3 linked regions of the Homo sapiens genome follow. The protein of the gene in region 3 interacts with the protein of the main gene of each other region in a biochemical or structural test. Each region holds a gene or a part of one and is shown on either strand. Other genes may lie near its edges. The genes, in order: SELL, RASGRP3 and PRKCQ.

Region 1 (7,873 bases), on a different chromosome or scaffold from region 3:
TTCCTCATCTGTCAAATGGCATCAAATGGGCTACTACTGGGAGATGTAAGGAGGAAAAAAGTCAAATATCATGAGATAGACTAAGGAAATAATGCTGGTGGTCTCATGCTATGTGCCTTACTGATTTCTCTTTCAGAATTGGACAAAAGTTTCTCAATGATTAAGGAGGGTGATTATAACCCCCTCTTCATTCCAGTGGCAGTCATGGTTACTGCATTCTCTGGGTTGGCATTTATCATTTGGCTGGCAAGGAGATTAAAAAAAGGTATGTGAGTTTAACTTCACATGAAAAGAACACAACTTTAAAGTGAAAAAGAAAAAAAAAAGAAACCCACAGGAAATTAAATGTGATAGATTCAACACAAGCAGGATGCCAAGCTTTACATTCTAGAGCCATCAGTCCCTGGAGACATGTAAATCAGCCCAGGACACACCTTCATTAAAACAGGTTGGCTGATTTTCGCTTTTCATCTGATAAACTTTTAAAAATGTCTATTACCTTCAAGGCAGCTTGCTAGGCTGATAACAACTAAGTGAGATATTCTAATGGTTCTTTGCTCTTATGTAATTCTTTAATACTTTTTTTTTTTTGAGACAGAGCCTCACTCTGTCACCAGGCTAGAGTGCAGTGGTGCAATTTCAGCTCACTGCAACCTCCGCCTTCTGGGTTCAAGCTATTCTCCCACCTCAGCCTCCCAAGTAGCTGGGACTACAGGAGCGTGCCACCATGCCCAGCTAATTTTTTGTATTTTTAGTAGACACGGGGTTTCACTGTGTTAGCCAGAGTGGTCTCGATCTCCTGACCTCGTGATCTGCCTGCCTTGGCCTCCCAAAGGGCTTGGATTACAGGTGTGAGCCACCACGCCTGGCCTGCTCTTAATTAATTCTGAAAAAATGACACACTATCTCTGTCCTCTAAGAGCCTACATGCCTTGGATTTCAATGCTACAATTCCACTAGGAAGTGGGTCTAATGTCCACTAAGGTTTCAAGGCACTGCTCCCAAATACCTGACCTCTTCAAGAGTCACCTGGTTCCCAACACATGGGCATTGCATTAACCCTGGGAGAAATTCCCATGTATTCTCCCAAGTATCTATTCACCAAGGCCACAGCTCTAACCAAATGCACCATATATGCTTTCCAACCATCCGTCACTGGAGAGGAAAAGAGAAGGAGGACTGCCTTGAGAAGTTAACATCTGCTGCCCAGATTATCACTCCCTTTACCTTAAGGCATGAGTGTGTCTCAGCTTTAAAGTGTGAGCAACCCACTAGCCTGCAGCAGGCCTTGGGTGTATGGTGCCACATTTGGCCAAACTCACCTGGAAGAACCATTCAAGGCTGTAACATTCATGGACATTGGGCAGCTTTTAAGATATACCTGTTTTGGCCAGGTGTGGTGGCTCATGCCTGTAATCCCAGCACTTTGGGAGGCCGAGGCGGGCGGATCATGAGCTCAGCAGTTCAAGACCAGCCTGGCCAACATGGTGAAACCCTGTCTCTACTAAAAATACAAAAATTAGCCAGGCGTGGTGGCGGGCACCTGTAATCCCAGCTACTCGGGAGGCTGAGACAGAAGAATCACTTGAACCCGGGAGGCGGAGGTTGCAGTGAGCTGAGACCGCACCATTGCACTCCAGCCTGGTGACAGAGTGAGACTCTGTCTCAAAAAAAAAAAAAAAAAAGATATACCTGTTTCAAGTTCAGGGATGATCTCGAAACAATTGCTAACCAACTGCTCTGTGTTGCCTTTCTGTGGGCTCAGTTGATTGTCATTTTAATTTTCCTTCCATCAAATTAGTTAGTACGTATTCTGTTCACTGAATATGGTATGTAAAGGTTGCCCCCTGTCCATTTACACTGGCAATTACAAAAATATTATTTATCAGTCCCTAATTGCGTGCCACTCTGATCTTATCTTTCATTTAAATTTGAGAATAGTGGGCGCTAGGTAAGTTTTCTAACCAATCCAGAAAGACAAAGTGTGTGAGGGGGGTGGGGATTGTTGATATGCAAGAACTTCATTAGCTATGTATAACCTGAGAGCACTGAGCAGTTAAAATGTCTCTGCCCTTGCTATTAGAAATTCTGTGCTGATTGAATCTCACTATCTTATAGTATTATACAGTACTAAGTACTATACAGTACTAAGTATAAGTATCAAGTACTGCATTAAGGCAAAAGAAGAATGACAGTTTTCTCCAACCACTGATTATTCTTTCCATTGAGACTTCAAATCTTGACCCCGGTTGTCCTGTCTTTCTTCCTACCTTGGGCGATGATGGCAGAACTGACGGATAGAGAACAGGGTGGGTTATTACACACTGCCCCCTGGGATAAGGTGGCTATTGTCTAAATAATTTTAAGGACTTTGGGGCTGTAAGTCACCTTAATAAGGAAGCTATTTATTTCCGAATTCTAAAATCTTTTAATAAGTGTTTGTAGAATCAAAAGAATAGAATCAAACTCATTTGCATGTAGTGAGGGGTTAGCTGGCTAAGGCTGTTTTATAAGCAAGGGTAAAAAAATTAGAGGGGTTGTTTTTAAATTTTTTACCTTGGAGTCATTTCTGTACAAGATCTCAAACCGATAACTTGAAAACTGCTGTGGGAATCAGTGTGGGGCAAACAGGAAACAGATAACGGGCAGTTAGGCTAGTTACAGTTATGCCAACAAAGAAAACAGAAGCCCCAAAAGATCACTGGCTTGGTAGGAAGCTTAGGGTATCTTTAAGATAACATTAAATAGTCTTCATCTGTGGGCCAGGCACCTTGGCTGTCACCTCTAATCCCAGCACTTTTGGAGGCTGAGGCAGGAGGATTACTTGAGCCCACGAGTTCAAGACCAGCCTGGGCAACATGGCGAAACCACATCTCTACAAAAATACAAAAAATTAGTCAGGCATGGTAGCATGCACATGTAGTCCCAGCTACCCAGGAGACTGAGGTGGGAGGATCACTTGAACCCAGGAGGTCAAGGCTGCAGTAAGCCATGACAGCACCACTGCACTCCACAACAGAGTGAGGCCCTGTCTCAAAAAAAAAAAAAAAAAAAGTCTTCATTTATAAAACAACATCTTCCATTTTCACCAACTTACAAATGATTCTGCTTTCCAAAGATTTTAGTTGTAGGTTGGTCCTTTAAAACATGAAGAGTATTTTTCCTATGGAGGCAATGGTAGAAATAATGGCTACATTCCCAGGCTAAATCTAAGACAAAATATAGTTAATGGCATTTACAAGGATAAAAGTAAAAAGTCATAAATCTCTATGTGTGTGTTTAGGTGTGTGTGTGTGTCTATGTGTGTGTGTATATGTATATATATACACAGAGAGAGAGAGAGAGAGAGAGAGAATTTATAGGCTTTTTGGGTTCTAATAGTTAGAAAAAGGGCACAGGTAACTATTTAGAGCATGGTAGCCAATGAAGTGACTAGAGCCTTCACCCCTATTCTTCTGTCCTCAGATGAATCTTCTGACTCTAGCACTTTGTCCCCTGCCCTAGTAGTCTTAGTATGGAGACTTTCCCTCCTTTCTTTTAGGAAAGGAATAAGGAACAGTTCCAGAAACATGTGTCCTTGTGCATGGGCTCATCTAGACACATTTTGTGCACCAGGCATTATCATTTTCTGATTAGTCACTACCATTGGCCCTGTTTGGTAAATAAGGAAACCAGGGCAATGATGTTTTAGGCCAAATCTCAAAAATACCATATCAGCAGGACCCAGAGTCAGAGATTAGACTCCAGTCCAGATACATCTTCTAAAATCACTGGTCTTCAGATTTGTGAACTGGTTTTTTCCTCGGTTGGAAGAATTTCCCACCAGAACCAACACACAGGGTTAGACCAGGGCATGAAACTGAACACATGCCCCCTTAGTTCCTTTTTCTTCAAAATGAAACTCTCTCAGTAGGAACAGATTCTTACTCATCTATTGCTGTTAGGTTCATCATCCCTAAAAAAAATATTTATGTGAAGCTAACCAGAATCTGAAATTAATTCAGATTTGATTCCCCCTGCTCAAGTGCACTTGGTCATCAGCAGGCTGAATTTTAGAAGAAAAGATTTCAAATAGTAGTCTTTAATACTTTAAAGGATTAAAACAGTAATGCAACACTGTCTACGTGCTAGGACCTGAACTAAATACTTGGAAATATTTTATTTTATCAACCCAATGAGGATGATACAATTATTATGCCTCTTTAACAGATGAAGAAATTGTAGTTTAGAAAAGAAAGTAGCTGTTCAAATACACACTACACTACAGGTGGCAAAATAGGGCTTTCACCTGGGTAGGATGATTCTAGAATGCCACTTTACAGCCACTGAAATATATTGCCTCCCAAATGATTCTTTCTGCTCAAAGAGTTTTTTTTAAGTTATCTACTTATTTATATTCTGCTTTTTTCAAAAAGAATGTGAGAACAGTACAAAATGTGTTCAGTATAGCAAATTAAAATTAATTAAAAAGTAAGAAAAAGAAGCCAATTTGGGCAACCCACTCGGGTCCCCTTCCACGCTGTGGAAGCTTTGTTGTTTCGCTCTTCGCAATAATAAATGAGCTTGATGTTTTATTGAGTACAAAAAAAAAAAAAAGAAAGCCAAATTTAAACTTAGGGTACAAAAATCATTTGGAACCAAGGTTGAAGTTATGGCACAAAAATGTATGTCACAAAGTTTTATATACTTGGTAGGAGAGGGTCTCAGATCTAGCTCTGAGTTTCCTTACAGCCAGTCAAAGGAGAACCATGTGATATTCCTTGTGTTTGTAAGATAAAAACACATTAGTTACTCAGATGAGGCTGCACAATTCCTACCAACAAGACCAAAGTGAAATTCTCTTGTGGATTCTCATAGAGATGATGCTGTGAGCTGTAATGGCACATAGTTTTACAGTATTAGCAGCTGTCCCTCAAGGGAAGAATCTGCAGGTAGGATGAGATGGCAGATTGGGAAGGGATAAACACTTGAATGGACATATTGGGTCTTGCCACCAGGCAATTTAGCAATTCTGTCTTCTTGAGTAGCACGGAGAATGGAATGGAACCTCAGGAGGCATCTGCATCAACATGTCTGTTCTGTATTAGTGTCTACCACTGTTTATTAAGCCAGTTCCTCAAATCTCCTTTGACACAGATAGGGTCCACCTAACAAATACCTAATATACTTCAAAAGACAGTTTTGAGAGTGGGAGTCTTCCTTCTCCCTTACTTGAAAAACTTTAAATTGTCTAATTTTTGCTAATGCCTTTTCTCTATTTTCTATTTTCAGGCAAGAAATCCAAGAGAAGGTAAGTTTTATTAGTGGCGAGGAGTTTCCACATCTGCTGATTCATTCTCTACTTCCTTAAGTTACTTCCTGCTCTAGCTAGACACATTAACCCCATAGTAGTTTATTTACCTGGGGTCCTCATCCAAATGACCAGATAAGGTGATAAATCTACTAGCTTCCTTTCAGAGCTGTGCTTTTTGGTGCTAGTGGAGCTGAATGAATGAATGAACGAACAAGTAATCCCTATTAGAAAAGGGCAGTTTATGTAAAGGGAGATTTTTCTGATTACCTCAGAATTTTTTCTGAGGGTTAAAAACATTGTGGTGTGTTCTTCTTGTTCTTAAATATATTATTTAAGAAATATTCAATTGAACAAGCACTTATTGAGAAATGAATAAATGCTTATTCAATTGACTATTTGCATTCAATTGCTCTAACAGGCATTGTCCTTCAGAAATGTGGGAAAGATAGGGAGCATGAATTCTACCTACAGCTTCCCCAAGGAGGCAAGTATTTTTCAGTTTGGTCTTGAAGCTCAAATTTCTTCTACTGGAGAAATAGCACAGTGGGAGGAGATGCAGACATGTGAAAGTTGATGGCCCACCTGGCAGAAATGAAGATGGAAAAATATTTCTCAGTATCTAGGGTTTAGTGACTTGCTCTGGAATTTTAGGAAGGAGAGTTTAAGTAAAATAAACTATGAAAGGAGGACTTTGGTGACATATTCAGTACCCAGCTGGACAACTGAGCTTCCTTTAAAATGCTAGAAATGAAGTGAGATGATTTCTGAAGGGATTGGATGCTGGTTTGGGCAACCATCCTACCAATCACAAACTTAGTATGGGCCATTGCTTAGAATGCAAAGGAAAAAGTGGGGAAAAATGAGGCACCAGAAGCCAGATCATAAACTAATGTATAAGCCATGTGATATGGGCTTTATCTTGAGGTCTTTTGGGATATCACTAAAGGGGTTTAAACAGTGAGTAGCCTTACCTCTGGCATCTTATAAGGTCACCCTGCAGAGCAGTATGGCAAGTGTGGGAGACAGGTGAGCCTGGATTCAAAGAGACTTGTTTTGGAGGCATTTGCAGTTATTAGATTAAAACCGATGGCGCCTGTCTAGGGAACTAGTAGTAAGAATGGGTTCATGAAATAAGAGGAGGTGATATTAACTGAATGTGTCTGTTAATTGGCTAAAAGTGAGAGAGAAGAATCAAATTATCATCTTTCTCACCTGGAAACTGGCGGATGGTAGTCCTGTTTACTTCTGAGAAGGGAACATAAAAGAATGAGAGGTTTTGGAGGTAAAGATCATGGGTTCAGTTTTGTACTGAGCTTTGGGTGTATGCACATCATTCACTGTGGCTCATTGGACCTATCCAAAGCACAGAGGCTATGGCAGGAGAAGTGGATTTGGGTCCCTCACATTTCAGGAGGTAACTGCCATCTCAGGAGTGGGTACTATCATCCAGGGAGGGTGTGAGTGCTTTAAGAATGGAAGAGGACCTGGGAGAGAGTATGGGAGCCAGAGGAACATCATTATCTAATAAGTCACCTAAGGGAAAGAGAAATGAAAAGATGTTGCCAGGCAGGGAGAAGGAAGAGGAGAAAGAGTGTGGGGTAATGAATGCCAAGGAAACAAAGAAAGGGGAACGGTTTCAAACATTGCCAAGAGAACCAGTAAGTATCCCCTGGATGCAACAAGGGTGTCAGTGGGGAGACTATTTGCAGTGCAGACATCAAGACAGAGGTCAGACGGCCAAGCATTGAGCATTACTGAGGATGAGAAAGTAGAGACAGAACAAGCAGTCATCTCTTTTAAAATGTTTGGCTGTGAAGGAGAAGTGGGGCAGGGGTAACTGGATGAGGATGTACGATCAGTGGAGGTTCTTTTTATTCTTTTTAATTACTCTGTCTTCTCTTTACTAGTGCAAATGGAGTCTAGTGAGGAAAGGCTTCTTTCTCTGGGCTGGTCTCCCTATGTCTGTGGCAGGAAACCCACAGATGTGAAGATTTCTTTCAAACTCGCACCTACTGAGTGAAAGTATTTTCTGGCACAATCTACCCAGAGCTGTTTTCTGGCTACCGGAACCACCTGTTTTAATTGCCACTAGATGGAAGCAGATCAACTAGATTTTTTTTTTTTAAGATGTCCTTGAGGCACAGGAGGAGAGACTGGCTGGAAGAATATTAGCAAAAAGCTAATTACCATGCTAAGCAAATTGCTATATTAAGTTTAATGGTTCACTGATTTTTTATAATCAGTCAATTAATAGTTGTTTATTGAACATTTTTGTGTTGGAAACTGCTAAGCTTTCTTGAGACAGCAAGAGGAGTCAGCCTGGTCCCTGATTTCAGGAAAATTATTACCTAGCTGGGGAGTTAAGACAGGAATATAGAAAGAAAAAAATCAGAAAAATACAAGGCAGAGCATGGTAATGGCCAATGGGTGCTATATTTAAGAAGGAAAAGGTCATTTGGCTTGGTGGTTATAGAAAATGTTATAAAGAAGGTTGCTTATGAAGAATAGATAGGATTTAGGTATATGGAGAAAAGCAGGAAAGGAAGGCAGTCTGTAGGAAGGAAATTGTGTAAGCAGTGG
Region 2 (8,588 bases), on a different chromosome or scaffold from region 3:
CTTCTTTCATGCGGGCTGGGCGCAGTGGCTCACGCCTGTAATCCCAGCACTTTGGGAGGCCGAGGCGGGTGGATCACCAGGTCAGGAGATCGAGAGCATCCTGGCTAACACAGTGAAACCCCGTCTCTACTAAAAATACAAAAAAATTAGCCGGGCATGGTGGCGGGCGCCTGTAGTCCCAGCTACTCAGGAGGCTGAGGCAGGAGAATGGTGTGAATCCTGGAGGCGGAGCTTGCAGTGAGCCGAGATCTCACCACTGCACTCCAGCCTGGGCGACAGAGCGAGACTGTCTCAAAAAAAAAAAAAAAAAAAATTCCTCTTTCATGCTATAAATAGCTTGATCTTCAAAATGTGTAATCTTGCCAGAACGACCTTGCAGAAACACTGATAACTTCCTCAGAAACATCCACACATGGCATACTTGCTTGATTTTCCTCCTGATTAATAAAAGGTTCCCTGTTGATTACATACTACCTGGTGCTCTTTCCCATTATCTCCAACCCTAATTTTGACACTTAACCTAAAGTGGAGGAATGTGGACAGCCAAATGACATTTTTAAAAGGATTCAGGAGGCAGGTTTCTTAAGGGCTCTGCAAGTCTGATGACCCAGAAAATCCACAGGTTTATGGCCCACCCGTGAGACAGTCAGAGCTTTAGATATGCAACTGGTGTGTGGAGAAGTAGGACTCAGGGTAAATGGCAGGTGCAGGCAGTGAAGAAAAGCATACCTCTCCTCCCTCACCACTGCCAGCTAGTCCCCTGCCCCGTGACCCACCCCTTACACCCACAGCTCAAAAAAACAGCGCAGAGTGGCAGAGTGCATGGTTTCTATTCATCAACAACCTACTCGGACAACCAACCTTCCAGGCTGAGCAAAGGGGATGGGTCTGATAATAGCTTTATCAACACTAAGCCAGCTATTTGGGGTGGGGCATGGGTGGAGTGGCTGTCCTCCAAAGGAAAGGAGTGACAGGAAAACTGGAGGGAAAGGCCAGAAGGGGCATGGGAGCCGTGTGCTGGAGGTTAATAACAAAGTTCCCGGTTGCTGTTCTTACCAACATCAAGACCGTCACTGAACTATTTTCAAAGAGAAAAACATGCCACCAGCCAGCGATCCTATAGAGAGAGCTTGGGCTTGGACTGTCACAGGGGGAAACCTAGCCCTTCCTGTCATGGAGAGCTCGAAAAGGGCATAACACACATTGTGTGTGTAATCATATTGTGCTGGAAATACTCTCATTTGCATGTTGTGAGTTTTTACATTTAAATGTGTGGGATTCCACTTTTATTTTTTAATGTATACAGGTTCTACAGTCAGATCCAGGTGTCCCTCCTGTCTGTGTTACATATGGTCAAGTAACTAAGGGTGTCCCTCCTGTCTGTGTTACGTATGGTCAAGAACCTCAGTTTCCTATCTATAGAACTGGAATAATAATATGTAACACATAGAGTTATTGTGAGGAGACTATGAAAATAAATACACTTGTTTAGCGCATCATTTGGCAGAGTAAGTGCACAATAAAAGTAAGGGATTGTTATTAGCGTTGAAATTATGATGGAAGCCTTGAGCTCTCTCTTCTGGCTCTGCACCGTAACTCCGATAAATTTGCTACAGTTTCCTCATCTTTGATACGAAAGAGTTAAATCGCACATTCTATCATTCCTATCCAGGTCAAAAAGTCTTTGAGTCAATGGATGTACTATCTGCAAGTAAAATCATTATTTTTTATTATTTTGCTATTAATATTTTGAAAAGGCATGGGTTTTTCAAAGGAGCCTGTTGGCTCTCAAAAATACAGCAGTTGGATAATTCAACTGCTCCCATTTAGACATTCCATTTTATTATGGGAGGCTCGATGATTCCGGAGACACAATTTCACCAGAGGGTTCTCTTCCACTATCAACCTGTGGAAAATCTGAAACTATACCAGGAACAAACTCCCTAAAGAATGACTCAGGAGGAACCCCCTCCCCCAGCAGTCAGACAGGGAAGTCACAGACCACATGGCCGCGGGCTGACCCAAGGACCTCACACAAATGCCATACCGAGGAACAGAGAAGTTGGGACTATTTTTCCTCATTGGCCACTCTACATTTTGTGGATTCTTCTACATTTGAAGGAAAAGAAGGTGGAGAACTTCTCAATGTCAGACTAGCCATTTGTTTAGACAGGGCATCCGAAACTGCTTCCATCAGAGAACATTGGTTGGTGCGGTACTCAAGACCCACTGTGCTGAGGGAAACTCGATCGCAGAAGTGCCGTGCCCTGGGTCATTTTTAATCCATTCTCCACAAACAACAAAGGATGGTAAGGGTGGGGAGAGAACAGTGTTCCCTCATGGCAGGGGGCAGAGGGCGAAAGAAAACCGTATAGCTTGAGCCTGTATGAGAATCCATTTGTCACACGAGGAAACAAGCGCACTCCAGGTTGTCCTAGGCTTATCACAAGCAAAACAACTATTTGGTGAGACTTCAAATAAAAACAGCCCCTCTCTGCCCACCCTCCTCAAGATCCACGCGATCTCCAGAAACAGGAACCTGTTTGGTTATCTCCCTGCAGCCTCTGATTCAAAGACCTGTCACTTTCAGAGCTTTACGTCATCAGTTTAGAGCTCTGCCCTCTCTCTTTTCCCCTTTTGCCTTTCCTCTGAAGCATTCTGTCTGGTGACTACCAAGGAAGGACAAAAGTCACCGAACAACAGCTCAGTTCCAGCATGGTGCCTGCTTTGCTGCTCGCCCAAGCGCAAGCACCATTACTGCTGAATGAACCTGAGAAGGAGCCGGTTCTCTCCGTAATTTGGATGCCAGGCCTCCCAGAGTTAATCATCAGCTGCAGGCAGCACTTTCCCAGTCAGGTCATAAACAAGGAAAAAACAGCCTGAGTATCACGAAAACACTAAAATAAGGAAGACCAGCGGCAACCGAACATTTTAAAGTAATGAAGGTGAAGGAAGACCAGGGGCAACTGAACATTTTAAAGTAATGAAGGTGAATTAGCTTGTTGGGGGGAAAAAAAGTCGCTATAAAATACAGCTTTCAATTAGTTGGAAACCATGCAAGAAATCTAAATATGATTTCTAATGTGAATCTAAATATTATTTTGTCAGTCTTCTATATTGCAGACAGTTCTACACAGTTAAATGAGATATTCTCAAAAATTGAATAGGAAAAATCAAATCAGCCATACAATAAATTCACAAGTTACTTTAAACAACTACGTTTTCAGGTTTCAGTGGTAGAAACAGATTAAAATCAAATCTAGTCATCAACTCACTTCAATGAAGTCTCTACTTCATAACCTGAACTTGACTTTGAACCTAAACACCATGGACTAGAAAAATCTTGAACACTGGGAAACAAACTTTCTGTTTCCTAGACAGGAATGAAGCCATATGCCCCATTCATCCTCAAAGTTACAAGACACGTTGCCGAAAATAACAGGTTCTAAAAAAGGGCTGTGAAAACACCAATGGCTGTTAACAGGTACAAATAAAATATCTCCTTCTATCGTGCCAGAGGGAAACCAAAATCAAAATCAAAAGTTGTTGGTGGCTTGCAACACACACACACACACACACACACACACACACACACACGGAGAGGGAATGAAAGAGAGAGAGAGAGAGGAAAGTTCTCCAGTTACTTACTAGGGTGGTTTTGTCGTGGTATTTTTCACATCAGCACTCTGCCTGTCCAGCTGCCAAGTGCCGGAGCACGCCGAGAGCAGCTGTTTCCTTCAAGCTGGGGCTCTGAGTCTTAACCAGTCACATGTACCTCCTGATAAATACCGCCCGCCACCGTGCCAGGAGGTCAGAAACTGAAGATCATTCTTCTCCTCACTCGCAAACCACCTCATAACCCCTGAGTTGGCTCAGCCATCTCATGAGCATGCAGAGCGGGATATTCCACAATTTGTTTTCCTTTAGTGACAAAAGCCAAACAGCTGATAAGTCACACTGAAGGGCAGGTCACTGCAAGTGGAAAGTTAAATGTGTTTGCGTGTGTGTGTGCGCAGAGGGGGAGACTGGCAGGCTCCATGCTCTCTCATCTCACTCAAGTTTCACTGGGGCTCTCGAACGGCAAGAGAGAGGATCACCAACTCGCACAGCAGGTGGAAGTTGCTCTGTGTTAACCCCGGAGTACAACTGTTTGGTTTCGTTTTCTCAGAATCTCAGGCTCCAGTTTGTTAGACGAGCCACAAGCCTGACTAGGTGGCTGGTGCTGGGGAAGGCAGACCCTCACTCACCATCTAAGAATGCTTAGGTTGGACTTCAAAGGCCGGGGCTGCTAAGCCAAGGGACGCTGAGGGGCAAATATGGGAGGGGTTAATGAAGACTATCAAAGGCAGCTTTATCTGAAGAGCTCTTGGAAGTGATTTCAGGTAGCTTTAGACCAAACTTCCGCATTGTTATCTGTTGAATTGCATCGAGCAGCTGAGATTATCAGCCGGCGAGTGTGAATGCAAACAGAAATTATCACCAAGTTGACAACGCGCTTTACAGACGCACTACTGCCCCCTTTGGTGTGCTGGGAACTTGGAGCAAACTGCCGTTTTCTGTGCTGCTCGCAAACGTGGCAAACCATCCCTGATGTTTTGTTGAATTCATATGTCTCACCTGAGCTGATGTTCCCACCCTTCCCTTTTCATCCTCCCTTCCAAGGAAAGCCCTTGAAGTATCTGACTTTACGTAGTGTCTGACCTTGGATGTCTGACTTCTTGGTATAGTAAGGGTGACACTTCCCCGAATCAGTGTCTGAGCCTGCCCTTCAGGTAGAGATATGACATAGAGGCAGCCTATTTGGCAAAGTGAACATCCAGAAAAGATGGTTGAAGTCCCCCAGGGGATTTCTGAACCATAATGTGCCTGTTAAACTATTAACCCTGATTTTTAACACATAATATCTTACTCAGTGTAAGAGCCTGTGTGAGTAATCTTTTATATTTAGGCTTTGTCTCATAATTATTTACAGTGTTAATCAAACCAGAAATTTCCCTCCATATAGAGGATACAGTGTTTTCTAGAATAAGAGAAAAAGACAAAAAACCCTCAGTCTCACCATACTATCAGGGCAGTAATTTGTTGTCAACTTGTGAGAGTCCGAAGAGCAAATGGGAGAATTTTGTAAGCACCAAAACAAATCCCTTCCTCAGCATTTCAAGTTAGTAATAGAAATAAACTTCAGATATAAAAATGCAATGCATAAAATACACATTTCCCTCACAGGCATTTTTGTTTATGTGTTGATGTGACAATCTTCAATTAGAAACAGAAAAAGAGGCCTACTGAGGATTTGAAACATTATTTTGATTTACTTACCCCCTTGTATTTACAGTAATAGAAACTTTTGTGATCTGATGGCATCCATCCATCACTTTGTTTACCATTGACTGGGTTAATTATTCTGATGATCCATTGCATGCCACATAAAGAAACAGGGACTTCTAGAAACTCTTCAATGCCCAACAGCGACAACAGCCTCAGGAAAGTTAAGTTGTATTAGTCCATTCTTGCATTGCTATAAATACTTGAGACTGGGTAATTTATAAAGAAAAGAGGTTTAATTGGTTCATGGTTCTGCAGGCTATGGAGGAAGCATGATACTGGCATCTGTTCGGCTTCTGGGGAGGCCTCGTGAAACTTACAATCATGGTGGAAGGCAAAGTGGGAGCAGATGAGTCACATGGCCAGAGCAGCAGCAAGACAGACAGGGGGCACTTCTAAATGACCAGCGCTTGCCAGAACTCACTATCAGCTGGGTGTTGTGGCTCATGCCTATAATCCCAGCACTTTGGGAGGCTGAGGAGGGTGAATCACCTGAGGTCAGGAGTTTGAGACCAGCCTGGCCAACATGGCAAAACCCTGTCTCTACTAAAAATACAAAAATTAGCCGGGCGTGGTGGTGTGCTTGAACCTGGGAGGCAGAGGTTGCAGTGAGCCAAGATCAAGACCGCACCACTGCACTGCACTCCAGCCTGGGCAACAGAGTGAGACTCTGTCTTAAAATAAACAAATAAATAAAAGAACTCACTCACTATCATGAGAACAGCACTAACAGGATGGTACCAAACCATTAATGAGAAATCTGCCCCTAAGATCCAATCACTTCCCACCAGGCTCCACCTCCAACACTGGAAATTACATCTCAACATGAGATTTGGGTGGGCACAACATCCAAACTACATCATAAGTGTAAAGCAGGAGTCCCCAGCCCCCATGCCATGGACAGGTACCTGTCCATGGTCTGTTAGAGGCCAGGCTGCACAGCAGGAGGTGAGCAGCAGTCAAGGGAGCATGACCATCTGAGCTCTGCCTCCTGTCAGATCAGCTGTGGCATTAGATTCCCATAGGAGCATGAACACTATTGTGAACTGTGCACGCGAGGGATCTACACTGCATGCTCCTTATGAGAGTCTAATGCCTGATGATCTGAGGTGGAACAGTTTCATCCTGAAATCATCTCCATCCCCTCATTCCCGGTCCATGGAAAAATTGTCTTCCATGAAACTGGTCCCTGGTGCCAAATACATTAGGGACCACTGGTGTAGAGGTTCTTTTCTAGTTCTATAGCCAGGAGAGGAAGGGATGGATCCTCAATCCTCCCTATGAAGCAAACTGTTAACACAGAGGCCAAGACCCAGGACCCTTTCAGTCAGAGTCCAGGAGTGTGACTAAAGGTTCTACAATAACACAGCCTTGCAAAGAAATGGGGGAGATCCCATCTTTCTGCCCACACTCCCTACCAGTTCCAAGCATTGTCTTCGACTCAAGAAGAGGTGCCCTCTTCCTGTCAAGAGGCCACCTCCTACCTCGGCTTTGTGTCTCACCCTGTGTCTCCCACCTGCTTAGGACTCTCGACAACAACCACGCCTTCTCTTGCTCTCAGCGTGCGCTCATTAGCTAAACATGCTCACGTTCTCACATTGTCTTTATATCCTAACAACAGTCTTTCTGATTTTTTGCTTTTTTTTTTGAGACGGAGTCTCACTGTGTTGCCCAGGCTGGAGTGTGGTGGCGCGATCTCGGCTCACTGCAAGCTCCGTCTCCCAGGTTCAAGCCATTCTCCTGCCTCAGCCTCCTGAGTAGCTGGGACTATAGGCACCCGCCACCACGCCCAGCTAATTTTTTGTATTTTTAGTAGAGACATGTATTTTTAGTAGTAACATGGGGTTTCACCATGTTAGCCAGGATGGTCTCCATCTCCTGACCTCATGATCTGCCCACCTTGGCCTCCCAAAGTGCTGGGATTACAGGCGTGAGCCACTGCCCCCAGCCAGACTTGCTCTTTTAATTACTGCCCTAACTCCTGCATTCCCTCCACAACTAAACTCCTGAAAAAATACTTGTCTTCACCATCTCACATCCCATTTACTCTCAACCTACTTGTGGCTTGGCTTTTTTTCCCTCACTTCACTGAAACTGCTCTTTCCAAGTCCCCAAAGACCAAAGGCAACCGACACTTTTTGCTTTTTTTTTTTTTTTTTTGAGACGGAGTCTTGCTCTGTCACCAAAGTGCTGGGATTATAGGCGTGACCCACCGCGCCCGGCAATTTTCATGTTTTTAGTAGAGACGGGGTTTCACCATGTTGGCCAGGATGGTCCCGAACACCTGACCTCGTGATCTGCCCGCCTCAGCCTCCCAAAGTGCTGGGATTACAGGCGTGAGCCATCTTACTTGACCTTTTGGCTCTATTTGTCCCAACTGACCAACCACCCCTTGAAAAGCTCTCCCATGGCGTCTATAAAATTTTACTACTACCTCCTTCATCCTCAGGTCTGGGCTTCTCTTCCGCTATCTGCCCCTTAGGTGTGAAAATCCTCTCTTCTCATCTTGCACTCTTACCGCCCCTCATATGTTCTGATTTATTACTGAAGGTCTGCGGTGATTTCCTAATTAATCACCTTGCCTCCAAAAAGCCTGTCTCTGATCTCAATGTATGTTTTACACGCTAGGACTGAAAGCCCCTCCGGGCCATCGTAGGCAACTTTGTATTCCCAGAACCTTCAGGGCTTCACTCCCACTCTAGCTGCCTGCTGCTTTTGTACATTTCGCTGCGGTTGCATTTCTTTCTGTATTATAATTAGGTCTACATGTGTCTGTGTTCCATCCAAACTTTACCAATCTAAGACAAAGCTTATGACTTATTTTATATCCTGCAATGCCTAATACAATGCCTGGCATGTATGAGACACATGGTGGAAACAATCCTCGATGAATAAATGAATAATTAAAGAGAAGGATCTTCTGTCTAGCCCATTAAGAAAAAAATATAAGAAAAGTTTGCAAAACTTGATTTTATATTAGGCTACCAAAAAAAAATTGTAAGTAATTTCTTTCCAAAAGAAATTGGCCATATTCTGTGATCACACTGTAATAAAACTATACATTAATTACAAAAGTGTAAGTCAAAAAGACCCCACGCTCTTGGGGAAACTTTAGAGTTCTTAAAAAAAAAAATCATTGATTGGAGAATAAATTAAAAACACAATTACAGAATGAATGCTTAGAAGGTTTCAGTGATGAGAATACCACATATCAAATATTGGGAGACATAGCCAAAATAATAATTAGAAGCAAACTGACCCAG
Region 3 (7,873 bases):
AATACTTCCATGGTGTGTAGAAGGGATGTTTGGATGGATGGCAGGTACACCGAAATGTAAGATAAATATGGAGGCAATGACTCGTGTCTCCTAATGAGGGCGCCATTGAAGGTATCATGCTGAGACAGGTTAGAGGGGAGGTAGGGTTGTCGGAGCAGAAGCCATACCTTGGTCTGGAATGTACAAAACATGTGCGTCAGAAACGGATGCTCCCAGGCCAAGGAAAGAACTCTCTTCTCTACCATCGTGCACTCAACATCATCGTCCATCAAGACCACATCTTTCTTTAAGGCCTTTATTGCGAAAAATTGATTGGTTTTCTTGAATTCTGCCAGGAAGACCTAGAAGGAGAGGGAAGAAGTAACTTTATTTTAGAATTTGGATTCCCATTTCTTAAAAAAGAGACAGAGTCCTGAGAGACACCTGTGTTGGGTGGGAAAAGGGGTTCCTTCTCCAACCCCCATCCATCCTGCATAGGCCATTCCTGAGACAAAATGGAGCACTTCTCTGGTTTCGGACATGACATCACTATTTCATACTATCTTTGTACTCTTTCCAAGGGTTCACAAAATTATTAAGCAATTGAATGGATTTTTAAAAGTGTGCCCTGCCTGCTCAGGGATCTGAGTGAAGGTACAATAAAAATCCAGAGAGATAAAGTGCACAGTGAAGAAAGAAGAGTTGAGTGTGGAGAGGAGAAACTGTACTCGAAACATCACTGCAAGTGCACATAAATCCTAGCTTTACGTTTTACCCAGTTTTTCCAGGCCAAAAGAAGAATGGAGGGATATAGTTCTCCTTGTGTACTTAAAAAATAAACACCGGCCAGGTGCGGTGGCTCAAGCCTATAATCCCAGCACTTTGGGAGGTCAAGGCAGGCAGATCATCTGAGGTTAGGAGTTCGAGACCAGCCTGGCCAACATGGTGAAACCCCGTCTCGACTAAAAAAAAAAAAAAAAAAAAAAAAAAAATCCAAAAATTAGCCGGGCATGGTGGTGGGTGCCTGTAGTCCCAGCTACTCGGGAGGCTGAGGTGGGGAATTGCTTGAACCTGGGAGGCGGAGGTTGTGGTGAACTGAGATCATGCCACTGCACTCCAGCCTGGGCGTCAGAGTGAGACTGTGTCTCAAAATAAAAAAAAATAAATAAGTAAACACCATTTTCTCTGACAACACAGCAATGAATTATTCATAGCAGAATGTATGGCATGTAGTAGGTCCTAAAATGTGACTGACACTGGGTTCAAAGGATAACTTGCTCAGATTCTTCGAGCTACTAGGGAAAGATTTAACTCCGAAGTTTACTTTCCCACTTGATTTCGTGGCTCTCGTATCAAAGGACACCAAAATGGGAATGAAACATTTTAGGACCTACTGTGTGTCATACACTCTGCTACCTACTTTACACTTACGACCTAATTGTATTATCTAATTTAATTCTTAGCTCATCACACTCTGCAAGACAGAAGTTAACAACATCAACAACAAACACTGAGTTCAAAGAATAACTTGCTCAGATTCTTGGAGCTATGAGGGAAGATTTAACTCCAAAATCTACTTTTCCCACTTGATTTTGTGGCTCTTATATCAAAGGACACCAGATGGCATATGATGGAGGGTTTCAACAATTTTAGTTTTTGCAAATGATGCAGCAACACACTGTTGGCAATGGTAAGGGCATGGCATTTGGATACAGAAAATTCTAGCTCTAGTTTTATTTCACAGACATTTATTAGCTGTGGAAATGTGGGCAGATGAATTAGCCCCTCTGGGCTTCAGTTTCCAATTACTACTGCATTCTCTAACTTACAGGACTGTTGTGAAAGTCAGGTAAGATGAGACCTGGGAAAGTAGACTCTAAAATGATCTCTGAATCACAGTTGCTAAAATTCAGTCATTTGTCATTTGTTTCTGTTATTGACTTTTGGGAAAGGCCGAAGTCAATGATGTGACAACAGCCCTGAACATGTAAGTGTCTAGGTTTAAAAGCGACGGAGCAGGTTCGTAGCTTGATGGTAGCTGACTTGATAGAAGGGAAGGGATGAAACTTAGATGGGAATTCAGGCAAATGAATGATGCTCACATCCCCAGAGAACACACAATTTGTTTTCTTAGGCTTAAAATTTGTTTGAGAACAAGGGTATAGAGGTCTTGGTGAGGAAACATACTTTCCACATAAAGCCAGAAGAGAGAGAAAAGACAAGTTTTGGAGTATTCTCAGTGTTGTGAGAAAGAGAAACAGCCATCCTGTCTTGCTTTGATATCTCCCCCTCCTCTCCTCTCCGTGTATAGGGACCCAGGGTCCTGATGAAAAGAAGTAGACAGCTTTGGACATGGAGTGGGGGAAACCTGGGGCTCCCAGCTGCACCTTGGGATACCGACTAAGGCTTGTAGGTTTAACTTAATGTCTTCCTTATTAACCTTATTCAAATGTGGAAATCCACATGGGAACAAAGAAAGATAAACATTTCATTAACAATTAAAAGTCCTCTTTTAGTAATTGCTTCTTTCAGTAAAACACCCTAAAACCAGCCATAAACTAAGAAGCCAAAAAGACAATTTCCATCTATATAATGTGCTTTCAATTTTTGGTAACAGGTTATAATTGCACATTAATTGCTGCTAAATTACAATGAAGACTGGCTGTAACATTGCCTATTATGCTCAGATTAGCACCAAATGAGCCTACTGTGGTTCATATTATTGTGGAACTGAACAAAAAGAATTCCTGAATATCAGCTACCATGTGCTGGACAGAGTCGATTCTGCTGAAAGGCAAGGCATCAGTGTTTAAATCCAAACCCCAAATGGAGCTCAATATTATTCAGCTGTGGTGACCGCTCAGTTGCATTTTAGTTTGTTTAATATTAAATAAACTGGGTAAGACATCCTGCCAAAGTCTGGTGAGCAGTTGTGGTGTATAATGCTGCCTTTGGCTGCACAGATTCATAGAACAGTCATCTCTGATTAAAATTTTCCTGGGAGTCCCATCCAAGAATGTAAAACAAATAGGAGCCCCGTTAATACATGAGATACCCTTAATATCAAAAATTACCTAAAAGCCTATATTCCATATCATCCCTCCTTAAATCACCAGCTTGAAAATTTTCTGCAGTCACCGGTAGTTGGTTATAATTTCTTAAATTATCTCTTCTTCCTTCTTCTCACCTCCCCTTTTTTTTTTTTTTGCTCCTCCTCTCCCTCTTTCCTTCCTCTCCTTGTCATCTGTGAGTGATGGAGACAACCCCCCACCTGCATGTATGGCAGGAAGAATTTAGAGGAGGGACTTTCTCCACAATTTTTTTCCAGGACTCTCAAGCTACAGTTTTCTTATGGGCTGAATTGTGTCTATACTGAAGTTCCAATCCCCAGGACCTTGGAAAGTGACTGTATTTGGAGACAGGACCTTCAAAGAGGTAATTAAGGTTAGATGAGGTTATTAAGGCAGGTCCTAATCCAATATGACTGGTGTTTTCACAAGAAGAGAAAATTTAAGCAGAGTGTGGTGGCACAACTGTAATCCCAGCTACTAGGGAGCTGAGACAGGAGGATCACTTGGGTTCGGGAGGTCAAGACCAGCCTGGGCAACACAGTGAGACGTCATCTCAAAAAAGGAGAACACTTGGATGCAGACATGCACAGGAGGAAGATGATATGAAGGCATGGAGAGAGGGCGACCATTGCAAAGCATGGAGAGGGGCCTGGGAAGAAACAACCCAGACAACACCTTGATGGTGAACTTCCATCCTCCAGACCTGCGAGAACATGAATTTCTGCTGTTTAAGCCAGCCAGTATGTGAGATTTTGTTATAGCAGCCTGTATTAGTCTGTTATCACACTGCTAATAAAGACATGCCCGAGACTGGATAATTTATAAAGGAAAGAGGTTTAATGGACTCGGTTCCACACAGCTGGGGAGGCCTCGCAATCATGGTGGAAGACAAAGGAAGAGCAAAGGGACGTCTTACGTGGTGGCAGGTGAGAGGGCATGTGTAGGGAAACTCCTCTTTATAAAATCATCAGATCTCATGAGACTTACTCACTATCATGGGAACAGCACAGAAAAACCCATCCCCATGATTCAATCACCTTCCACTGGGTCCCTCCCATGACACCTGGGGATTATTACAATTCAACGTGAGATTTGGGTGGGGACACAGAGCCGAGCCCTATCACACCCCAAGGAAACTTATACAAGCTGGAAGATATTTAATAGAGAGAGAAAAAAATCACATGCAAACTAAAACAACACTCCAGGCTTGAGAATGAAGCAAAAGAAGAGAAAACAAAATGAAACAAACACAAACACCGTGTGAAACAGGAAGTGGCTGAGGCACCTTCCTATTTCTTTGGTGCCCAAAGACATCAAACTCATAGGCGTGTGAGATGTACACTCTCCAAGCAAAGTAGCTTTGGAGACACAGGTTTCCAGAAAGCTGAGGCTACTATGGGCCTAGAGCCCTCGGGGTCCCTATTTATTCAGCGCTCCCTCAGGAAAGCTGTCTCTGACACTCACATGCAATCCTAGTGGCCCTATGAGTTTAATTTCTTTGACCAGGAACTTGGCTCATCAGTTCCTGGAGTTGGGCCATAGCATTCTCCCGTGCATTAGCTTACCTTGCCAAAACTTCCTTTCCCCAACATTTTGTGCAAGATAAAATCCTCAATTTTTAGTTTAATCTGCAGAGATGGTCTTTCTTTGTTCAGTTCAGGTTCTGGAAGATGGCACATTTTATCCACCTCATCCAACGGAGACTCCCAGGAAATGCCCTGAGGCTCTGAAAATGCAAGCTGGTGGTTAAAAATGAACATGGAGTAATGGAGGTCATTCTAGTTACTGAGAGCACATGCTTTCTCTTCTACTTCCCATGCTGAGGCTCCATCATAGTAATTGGGGGTGTTTAGAGGGTTTCCTACAGTTCAGGCAGCTTTAATACCTTTCCATCTGTCTGTGAGGGCAGCACCCCCTGTCTGTGAGCCTGGCATTTGGATTTTGGAGTGTGGACTATGTCTCTTTCTTCAATAGACTGGGAAATAGTTCAACTTAAGAAACAAATTCCAATCAGTAAAAGACCATATATGCAAAATACACAAGCACTGTTAATAATGCCACATCAAGGACATCTAGGGATTTTAACCAAATTTTAGGAAAAAAATGATTTTCAATTGTTTGCATGGCTCACAAACACAGTGGCATCAATTTCTACAATTTACAGCGTGAGAGAGACAGGAAATGAAATCTAGCAGATTTTTAAAGATCTGAACTGCATCATTCATCCCAGAATTCAAGTCAAGATGCTGCCTACGTTGGCCGGGTATGGTGGCTCACACATGTAATCTGACAACTTCGGGAGGCCGAGGTGGGCGGATTGCCTGAGCTCAGGCATTTGAGGCCAGCCTGGGCGACATGGTGAAGCCCCATCTCTACTAAAATACAAAGAATTCGCTGGGTGCGGTTGTGTGCGCAAGTAGTCCCAGGTACTCGGGAAGCTGAGGCAGGAGAATCCCTTGAACCCACAGGGCAGAGGTTACAGTGAGCTGAGATTGTGCCACTGCATTGTAGCCTGGGCCACAGAGCAAGACTCTGTCTTCAAAAAAGAAAAAAAAAAGATGCTGCCTATGTTGATCATTGCTAAGACATAGTCTCCTTGACTGCCTGGCAACCCCTCCTAAATGTAACCCAAACCTTTCATTTACATTTTTAAGTTGATTTGAAGTCAGAGAAAACATAAGAGAAATTTTTAGGAATTTCCCCCTGCCTACAATAGTCTCTATATTTTTAAATCCCTAGGTTTATCTTTCATACTCTTCCAAGGACACTAAGTATTTTAGAATGTATGCTGAAACGACTCAGGTCTCAGAAACATGGGTCATATCCACTCATGAACTGCTTTCAAACAGTAGGCTGGAAAAACTGCCATAATGTCATGAAAGTGGCTTTGAGTCCTTCTCTTTCCTACCCTTAAATTTAAGTCTCAAAGGTGCAGAGTAAGAATGTCTTCTGTGGCCTTCCCACCATCAAATTTTAAGACAGATTTATTTCTGTGAAACCATTTGACACTGACAGAATGTAACATGCTGAAACTCTAAGAAAACATTTGTGGTTGTTCCCTCCAGACCTATCCCATTTTCTAACCCCCACCTCCTGCCTTTTACAAAGGTAAAAGGTTTTAGTTTCTTTTCTAAGAAGTGGGAGCCTCTTAGTTGGTAGCTGGAGGTGGATCACCTATCAGACCAGGTAAGCTGATAACTTAAATCCAAGGGCATTAGGTTAGGGTTAATTGAGATTAATGACTGACAGTGATTAGACTGCTGATCAGGACAGCTACCTCTTTTTCCCGGTGTCGGTAAACATGGCGGCCTTGCTTCATTTTTGATGGAGCATGGGAGACCAATTTCAACCGGACCTTCTCTGAAGATCTGTTCAGTATCTCTTAAGCAGCGAGCCTGGATGACAAACAGAGAGTCAGACCACCCACCCACCCACCATTGATGGAACAGCTCAGCCTGCTAACGATGGGGACAAAGGCCATTTAAAATGTTTAAATGCATAGGGTCAACAAAGATCTCCTTATCCTCAACGTTCTTTTGGAACCCCATATTCTGGGAGAGTCTATCTACTGTATTTTATGCATTAGCCGAACACGTTTGCCTCCTTCACACTTTTCTGGGGCTGACAGGATTCTCTCATGCTGTCTACATCATTCCATCACAAATAAGGACAGGTAGTTAATGGATGGGAAAACAGCTGATACAGGCAATGCCAAGTCTTAAAGAGGGTTTATCCTTGGATCTAGGAATTCAGCTAATGCCAAAACAGTAAACAGCAGGCCAAATTTGCCCTGGACTCGGTGTTCCATGAGGATGATGCTAGCACATAAGTGTTTTCCCCCAGGCTATTCTATAACCCGAATATATTCACATAAAGCTGTCAATGAATCTTCAATAACTTTAATGAATTTATTTGTTTCTGCAATGCTCATGCCATGAAGAATTTAAGATTTTATAAAGATCTGCATAATACAAATGCATTAAATAAATATCTCAAAGATAGGGGGTGTGGGCATGGATATGAAAGCCAAGGGCAAGGCCGGTGCTCAGAAATACATCCCGGCATTTCCCATAGGGCTGCCACAGGTGAAGCAGCAGAAGTGCATGGACATCCTTGCTGAGCGGCCATGGCGGGAACGTGTCCACGGCACATGCTCCTACCTGTTGAGTGCTCTCAATCATGGCCAGCGCTTCAGCCATTAGCTTCTGGTTTATGCCACAAAGGTTGGCCACCTTTGTCTGGCATCTATGATGCACATTCATGCCACATGCTGGAAGGAAGAAGGCAGATAGTGAGCAAGAGTGGAAGAACCCCCTGGTGCTAAACAACTCTCTCTGGAGGTAAGACAGAGCCTTGCGGATAGGGAGGAAAGCCTAAAGTGCCACGGCTGGGAGGAAGTTGACCCTGGCTCTCCCTGGTAGTGATCCTCGTGCTGGAAGGGAAGTGAGGTAGGAGGTGGGACTCAACTCTGGAGGTGGGGTTCAGACGCCAGACCAAATTGAAGACTAGCTAAAACAGGGACAGGGCAGAAGCAGCTTTCCAGAAGATGCCCACCTGCGTGCCATGTCAGTTTAGTGTTGCCATGGCAACACCCAGACGTTACCACCCTTTTTCCAGGAACTTAATTTGCATGTAGTTAAAAGTGGTATAAATAGGATTGCAGCACTGCCCTGAGCTGCTACTCTCTGCCTCTGGGGTAGCCCTGCTCTGCAGGAGCAGTCATGGAGCTGTAACACCAACAGAACTGTAATACCGTTGGCCAATGAAGCTGTTTTCTTCTACCAACAGCCGACCCTTGAATTCTTCCTGGGCGAAGCCAAGAA

Evidence for each region.
Region 1: the proteins of PRKCQ (region 3) and SELL form a complex in vitro, tested with the Homo sapiens proteins (one study listed by BioGRID).
Region 2: of the proteins of PRKCQ (region 3) and RASGRP3, one has a biochemical effect on the other in vitro, tested with the Homo sapiens proteins (one study listed by BioGRID).

The regions. Positions count from the first base shown.
Region 1 is NC_000001.11:169,693,952-169,701,824, reverse strand, and holds part of SELL (L-selectin precursor), read left to right. Parts: intron 1-136; coding exon 137-265; intron 266-5,271; coding exon 5,272-5,290; intron 5,291-7,873. UniProt on the Homo sapiens protein: Calcium-dependent lectin that mediates cell adhesion by binding to glycoproteins on neighboring cells. Mediates the adherence of lymphocytes to endothelial cells of high endothelial venules in peripheral lymph nodes.
Region 2 is NC_000002.12:33,471,768-33,480,355, reverse strand, and holds the start of RASGRP3 (ras guanyl-releasing protein 3), read right to left. Parts: upstream 3,708-8,588; 5' UTR 3,649-3,707; intron 1-3,648. UniProt on the Homo sapiens protein: Guanine nucleotide exchange factor (GEF) for Ras and Rap1.
Region 3 is NC_000010.11:6,478,825-6,486,697, forward strand, and holds part of PRKCQ (protein kinase C theta type), read right to left. Parts: intron 7,321-7,873; coding exon 7,211-7,320; intron 6,446-7,210; coding exon 6,328-6,445; intron 4,777-6,327; coding exon 4,616-4,776; intron 342-4,615; coding exon 168-341; intron 1-167. UniProt on the Homo sapiens protein: Calcium-independent, phospholipid- and diacylglycerol (DAG)-dependent serine/threonine-protein kinase that mediates non-redundant functions in T-cell receptor (TCR) signaling, including T-cells activation, proliferation, differentiation and survival, by mediating activation of multiple transcription factors such as NF-kappa-B, JUN, NFATC1 and NFATC2.